Homo sapiens: one gene and its partner. Each later gene encodes a partner of the first gene's protein in a complex. Each region holds a gene or a part of one and is shown in the gene's direction. Other genes may lie near its edges.

Region 1 (3,747 bases):
ACATATTAAATGACTGAATGAATGCGAGCTTAGGAATGTTAAGTCAAGATACTAAATTTTTTTTTTTTTTTTTTTTGAGACAGAGTCTCACTCTGTCGCCGAGGCTGGAGTGCAGTGGTGCGATCTCGGCTCACTGCAAGCTCCTTCTCCCTGGTTCACGCCATTCTCCTGCCTCAGCCTCCCGAGTAGCTGGGACTACAGGCGCCCGCCACCACGCCCGGCTAATTTTTTGTATTTTTAGTAGAGACGGGGTTTCACTGTGTTAGCCAGGATGGTCTCGATTTCCTGACCTCGTGATCCATCTGCCTCAGCCTCCCAAAGTGCTGGGGTTACAGGAGTGAGCCACCGCGCCAGGCTTTTTTTTTTTTTAAGAGACACAATTTTGCTCTTGTTGCCCAGGCTAGAGTGTAATGGCGCTATCTTGGTTCACTGCAACCTCCGCCTCCCAGGTTCAAGCAATTCTCCTGCCTCAGCCTCCCGAGTAGCTGGGATTACAGGCATGCGTCACCACACCCGGCTAGTTTTGTATTTTTAGTAGTGATGGTTTTCACCATTTTGGTCATGCTGGTCTCGAACTCCTGACTCAGGTGATCCTCCCGTCTTGGCCTCCCAAAGTGCTGGGATGGCAGGCGTGAGCCACCGCGCCCCGCAAGATACTAAATTTTAAAACACATCTTGCTGAGGCCAGACAAAAAAAGCCCCACACACTAAACTAGCCAGGCACGGTGGTGTGCGCCTCTGGTTTCATCCATTCTGATTGCAGCACAACAGCACTCCAGCCTGCGCAACAGAGAGCGGCCCTGTTTCTAAAAATAACAAAACAAAACAAAAAACACCACACACATCTTGCTGAAAAACGTATCAGAAACTGCTAGAGTTAGTGCAAGTTTATACTTGAAAATACTCAAAGATATCAACGATCACCTCTCCCTCAGGCTGAAACTGCCTTTTGTGCTCAACTTTGCTAGAAGTTTGGTCTGGGAAACAGCTGACAAGCTTAGAGCTTAGATCTCTTTTGACTAGCAAGGAACCCAACTGACATTCGAAAGTGAATTGACAGCATCGAGTTGCCACTGAAAATTAAAGGAGGCAGGAAATAGAACGTTATGAACTGAAAGGAATTGGAGAATAGTCCACACCCCTCATTTGATAAAATATCAAGGGTACCAGAGATGAAGTGACTTGTCCAAGATTAGAGAATTGTGTCTGAGTCTTAAAAGCTAAACCTCTACAAAGATGTGCATTTGACCAAAACGCTAAAATCACACCCCCAAATCACTCCCCACAAGAGGAAGTCTTAAAACGCTTCAAGAAGTTAATCTGCAAAGGCTTCCCTCTTAAATAACAGGATGAGAGCGTTTCATAATTTGTAAATTAAGCCAATGCAAAAGGGCGCTTATTATTTTGAGAACCAAGCAATTTGGCAAATACTCTCAGACTAACTTTACTCCCGTGGAGAAACTGGTGATCATGGATCAGGGAAATCAACGGGGGTCTAGGGAGGAGAGGCTGCAGATCGCCCAGGTATCAGGGAAGACAAGCTCGGCGCGTCCGACAGCGTGAAAAGAGTTGACAGGACTACTCATATACCCGACTAGCTTCCGCTTCTTTGTTTTCCCGCTTTTTTGTATCCCCCAGCAAGGAGAGTTTCCCACAGCCCGGATTTCCCGACTGAAGGCTCCCACTCTCCCTAGATCCTCCATGAAAAAGAAGAGGCTCGACCCCGCACCTCCTCGCCGCAGAGCCGTTCGTATACAGCCTCCAGCTCCTGCAGCTCTGTCAGGGAGCGAATGAGCTCAGCGGAGATTTCGGAGCAGCGGCCACCTCCCACCCCCTCAGACGGCTGCTGCACCCCTGACAGCTTCGGAGGCGAATCAAGGTCCGCCATCTTGGTCCCCATTCGGCACTTCCGGTCCCGCGAGGCCCCCTCTTCGTTGGCGCCTATTTGGGGCTGCCCACAGAAGTGCCCAATGAACTCTAATGGTTTTTTTTTTTTAAAGTCTACTTCTAAAAACGTATTAATTTTCTATTCTCCTGGAAAAAGCAAAGCAATAAAGCATGTTTAAATAATTTGTAATGCCGTGTGGAAGCAAGACGGAAGCATTTTTTAAAAATTATATATATTCTTCAGGCGCGGATTGGGTGCCTTTTTCCGCCGCGCGCCACCAGAATGTCCCTGTCTTGAGGTCTAATGGCGGACGCCAGTATGTTGGAGTTGGTGGTGGCTTAAGTTTTGAAGGGAGGTAGCATCCGTTGGATATCCACACCATCCTTCTCGCTGCAGGGTAAAAAAACAGCCTGGAGACTTCCCCGGGCCCGGGGAGGCGGAGACCGGCCATATGGAAGGGGGACCCGAGACTTTGGCGGGGGTCACGGGCAGTCTAGGCCCGAGAGGCTGGGGACCAGGAGGAGGTACCGAGGGATGGTTGAGGCGCCAAAACGGCTTCCTGCAGTTATCTCTCGCTTCCATCCACAGTGTGGGAACATATTCTATCTCAAAATAGGGCTCGTGGAGATTGCTTTTAACTTCTGGGGACTCTGAGACGGGGGAGGTGTGACAAGCAGCGGGAGGCATGGATGTCTCCCTCTGGGTAGAGTAAATGGTACACCGAGGGGAAGATAGAAAGATGGAGCGTGTTAAAAGCGTAAATAACGGAAACAGTCTTTAGAGCCAAGACTCCGGTTTGAATTTGTATTTTGGTAGTTGGGCAACTTGTCTCCTCCTCTGAACCTCTATTTTCTCGTTTGCGTAATGGAGGACAGAGTTTAAATGCGATGATGTTTCCTTGGAGGATGGAGAAGATGCAGTGAGCAATCATACAAGCTTTTTGTAATAATGGTAAACAGACGTGGGGGAAGTTTTTTTTGTTTTGTTTTGTTTTGTTTTTGTGACGGAGTCACAGTCTGTCGCCCAGACTGGAGAGCAGTGGCGCGATCTCGGCTCACTGCCATCTCTGCCTCCCGGGTTCCAGCGATTCTCTTACCTCAGCCTCCCGAGTAGACTAGCTGGGATTACGGGCGCGTGCCACCACGCCCGGCTAATTTTTCTTTTTTTGAGACGGTGTCTCGCTTTGTCGCCCAGGCTGGAGTGCAGTGGCGCGATCTCTGCTCACTGCAAGCTCCGCTTTCCGGGTTCACGCCATTCTCCTGCCTCAGCCTCACGAGTAGCTGGAACTACAGGCGCCCGCCACCGCGCCCAGCTAATTTTTTGTATTTTTAGTAGAGACGGGGTTTCACTGTGTTAGCCAGGATGGTCTCGATCTCCTGACCTTGATCCACCCGCCTTGGCCTCCCAAAGTGTTGGGATTACAGGTGTGAGACACCGCGCCCGGCCCAGACGTGGGGGAAGTTTTAAAGCTTACCAAATTTATCTGGTATGTATTTTTTGTTTGTTTGTTTTGTTTTTGAGACGAAGTCTCGCTGTCGCCCAGGCTGGAGCGCAGCGGCTTGATCTCGGCTTACTGCAGCCTCCTCCTCCTTGGTTCTAGCTATTCTCACGCCTCAGCTTCCCGAGTAGCTGAGATTAAAGGCGTGTGCCACCGCGCCCGGCTAGTTTTTGCATTTTTAGTAGAGGGGTTTTCACTGTGTTGGCCAGGCTGGTCTCAATTCCTGACCTCAAGTGACCCATTTGCCTCGGCCTCCCAAAGTGCTGGGATTACAGGCGTGAGCCACCACTGCGCCTGGCCTCGTATATAGTTTTTCTAGTACTGGACTGATCCTCCGAAATGCACCTTCCTCCACGATCCA
Region 2 (3,747 bases), on another chromosome or scaffold:
AAATTAGCCGGGCGTGGTGGCAGGCACCTGTAATCCCAGCTACTCGGGACGCTGAGGCAGGAGAATCGCTTGAACCCGAGAGATGGAGGTTGTAGTGAGCCAAGATTGCGCCACTGCACTCCAGCCTGGGCAACAGGGTGAGACTCTGTCTCAAAAAAATAGATAAATAATAAAATAAAATGTCAGCTCTACCATTTACCAGCAATATGACCTTAGCCTAATTACTTAAAATTCCCTGTTCTCCACATACAAAAAAGGGATACCATTTGCTACTTGCCTCTTAGGGCTGCAGTGGGTATTACGGGAGATATGTACCAAGGGTTTTTTTTTTTTTTTTTTTTTGAGACGGAGTCTGACTCTGTCACCCAGGCTGGAGTGCAGTGGCACGATCTCGGCTCACTGCAAGCTCCGCCTCCCGGGTTCACGCCATTCTTCTGCCTCAGCCTCCCAAGTAGCTGGGACTACAGGCGCTCGCCACCACGCAGGGCTAATTTTTTGTATTTTTAGTAGAGACGGGGTTTCACTGTGTTAGCCAGGATGGTCTCGATCTCCTGACCTCGTGATCCACCCGTCTCGGCCTCCCAAAGTGCTGGGATTACAGACGTGGGCCACCGCGCCCAGCCTCCTTTTCAAATCCTACTCTTAAAACTTTTTTTTCATATAGAAGCAACTAAAAGTTAACACCGGAACAGTCAACTCGATTAACAGCCTGCCAAAAGATCCGATCATTTCAAATTGAATTTCCAATTAGAATATTCACACCATAGAAACACTTCTGAGATAACTCAGCACTATAATGGAGATCCTTCAAGGTTATTTAGGTTACAATCATCCAAGCCATTTTTACCTTGGTTTTCCCTCTTAGAAGTCTCCGCTGCACCTGTCAGTTCTCAAATGCACAAGTCCTTGCCAGACCACCCAGCCTCTATGACTCCTGAAGCAAGCAACACAGGACCAAGGAAAATTCACACAAGCGCTAACAAGTCTGGTTTGATTATTTTCTGCAAGCTCATCCAATAGTTCCTCAGCGACTGAGTCTAGACTTGAGGAAAGAGGACTGAGTGAGGCCATCATTCCTTGTTGTCATTTTAGATTAGGTCTTCCTGACAACGGCCAAAACGAGTATTCTGGAAATCATGCAGACTTTCCTCTGTCTCTTTATATGTGTTGGATACAAACACGTTTCATTTTAGAAACCTCCAGAAGAGACTGGCCACAGAGGTTTTTGCTTCTATTAAACCCCTTTGCCTAGTTTCTCCCCACCCAAGAGAATCAATACATCCTAATGTCATCCTCCGGCACACACTGTACATTTCCTCTAACTCTGCCCTTTTGGCTATCATTTGCTCACAGCTCCGTGGGAAAGTTCCCCCAAACCATTACAATTATCTCAACCGGACCGGGCTACAGGCCAAGCAACTCGGAGTCACCGCTCGGCCTGGCCCGGCCACGCCGACGAGCGCGTCCTGGCCCGCTCCTTACCTGTGGCCGAAGCCGAAACCCGGCCCAGCGCCCTGCGTCCGACACCCCTGCCCGGCCTGCCTCTCGGCCTGGCCGCCGCCTCCGCGATCGCAGCGGTTTTACTGCCCCGGATGCCTCTAGGACGCAGCCAGAACCGTAGCTCAGTCACGCCGCGCCTCTCTTCACGTAGCCTCCGCCGTCCGTTACGTAGAATGCGAGCGGCTCGTCAGCGCCTGCGCGCAGCCTGCGGGGCGGGACGCAACCCCGGGGAAAGCGCGAGACCTCCCTCTCTCCCGCCCGGCTGAGGCGAGGTGGGGCTTTTGGGAAAATTACATAATCCCCGCCCCTGGGCCGGAACTGCCCTCGCCTATCCCAATCCTCCTACCTAGGATTCCGTCAAGTTGACGTCACACGGAACCGGTGCTCCGGAAGCTAAAGGTGGCCATGCTGTGTGGGACCACGTGGCCAGAGGCAAGAGTGTCGCTCTAGTAGTATATGCAACAGTTTAAACTATAGGCATGTTCATGTAAATATGGTTTCTGTCCAACCCGTTTTCTCTTGGGATTTTTGGCTAGCCCCTTGACGCCACTTTTTCTTCATTCGCAGACCCACTTTCTAGATGGGTCATGAACACTGTCCACCCAACTGCAGTTTCCCGTCAGAGTATCTGAGGAGCCTGTGAGGCGTTCTGGAGCTTTAAGGTCAGGCGCCTTCCGGGAGCCGTAGCCCCGGCCCCGCCCTTCTGCCCGCGCGTTCCTCACTGCGCATGTCGCGTTTTTGTTCCCCTCCCCCCTTCAGCAACGGGCCGTGAGGCGGTGGCGGTGGTGGCGGTGGCGGCGGCGGTGGTGGTGGTGGCGGCGGCGGCGGCGAAGGGGGCGGAGAGGAAGGAGCGCGGCGGGACCGGGCCGGGACAGCGCGTACTTTGGGCTCCGGGATTCGCTCCGCGCCCGCGGTTGTAGCAGCTGCCGCTGCAGCCATAGCAGCAGGTTTGTGCGTGGGGTTTCTGGACGCAAGGCCGCCAGTCCTTGGGGGCACTGGAGGCAACTGCTGGGCCTAGCGAGGGCGGAGGAACCGCGGCCTCGCTTAACAAAGAGTCGGCAGAGCCTCGGGGCACCGGCGGCCGGGGTGCCGGGAAGGGGTGGGAGTGGGGGCTGAGGCCTCTAGGGTTCCTTCCTAGCCGCGTCGCCCTCCCACAGCTCCCGCTTCCCTCACAAGTCTTACCGAGGCCCAGTTGGCGGCTTTCCGGAGGCGGCGCCCCCTCGCCTAGGAAAAGGATTTGCAGGGTGCCCGGCTCCAGGGCAGGAATAGCGCGGGGAGAATTCTGACCCAAGGAGGCAGCGCTTGGGAGATGCAGGCCTCCGAATTTGGGGTCCTGAGAGGCAAAAGCTGCCAAATGAGAGGAGTGAAAAGATATAGGCGATGATCTTTGTGCAGCGTTGAGTAGGTCGATTATTAGCATCACTGTAGTCACACAAACTTTTTTGCGGCCTACTTGAGAGCGTATCTGATGTGAATAAATAATTTACATGGAATTGCAAACATATGCATCAAAAACAGGAGAAGCTGTCGAGAGTTTTGGGGAATTACATTCTCATCACTGAGAATTTCCCTCTTGCCCCCACTCCTATAGGCAGTTATCCAATTTCTTGTGGCTTCCCTGTGTTTTCTTTTTGTCAATGATGTTTCTATGTCTGTCCTCTCTCGTATACACACCCAGGACTTCCTCAAGCGCAGGGACTATGTCTTAAGGCGCTTTGCAGAGCCAAGCTCATTTCTGGCACATAAGAGGTGAGCAATGAGTGTTTCGTACAAAAATTAATGTTTATATTTTGACAGCTGGGAAAAGAAAATATATCTTCCTGTACCTGGAAGAAGCATTGTGTAGCCTAATGTGCAATTCGTTCATTCAAGGGGTATTTTTATTGGTGCCTATTCTCTAGCGCCGTTCTAGGTGATAGGGATAGGTGTTAGACCCCTGCCTTTGGGGAACTTAACTTTCTAGTAGCGGGAGGAGAGGCAAACAGATACATATATTATACTGAATGTTAGAAGATGATCAGTATCTTAGGGAAAAGAAAGCTGGAAAGGGGGTTGGGGAGGTGGTGGTGTTGGAATTTGCAATAAAGTGGTCAGGGAAGTCCATACAGACAAGCTGATATTTAAGCGGACTAGAAGGTGGAGTGAGAGCCTACGTTTATCTGGGGAAAGGAACGTTCCAAGCTAGAGAATAACAAACATAAAAGCCTTGAGGAGGACAAAGCTGGCCCGTTAAGAGTGTGAAGACCA

What was found. Proteins that work in one complex are often made in the same cells at the same time.
Region 2: the proteins of SF3B3 (region 1) and DDX42 are in contact, whole or in part, in a cryo-EM structure (PDB 7EVN), measured with the Homo sapiens proteins. Residues at the interface, in NP_036558.3 of Homo sapiens: Glu159, Ala160, His161, Tyr211, His219, Val220, Val221, Arg222, Lys223; in NP_031398.2 of Homo sapiens: Lys145, Gly146, Ile147, Arg148, Asp149, Asp150.

What each region holds. Positions count from the first base shown.
Region 1 is NC_000016.10:70,521,644-70,525,390, forward strand, and holds the start of SF3B3 (splicing factor 3B subunit 3), read left to right. Parts: upstream 1-2,172; 5' UTR 2,173-2,285; intron 2,286-3,747. Other genes in the region: COG4 (conserved oligomeric Golgi complex subunit 4), read right to left, coding at 1,730-1,900. UniProt on the Homo sapiens protein: Component of the 17S U2 SnRNP complex of the spliceosome, a large ribonucleoprotein complex that removes introns from transcribed pre-mRNAs.
Region 2 is NC_000017.11:63,771,930-63,775,676, forward strand, and holds the start of DDX42 (ATP-dependent RNA helicase DDX42), read left to right. Parts: upstream 1-2,240; 5' UTR 2,241-2,447; intron 2,448-3,178; exon of another isoform or gene 3,179-3,249; intron 3,250-3,747. UniProt on the Homo sapiens protein: ATP-dependent RNA helicase that binds to partially double-stranded RNAs (dsRNAs) in order to unwind RNA secondary structures. Unwinding is promoted in the presence of single-strand binding proteins.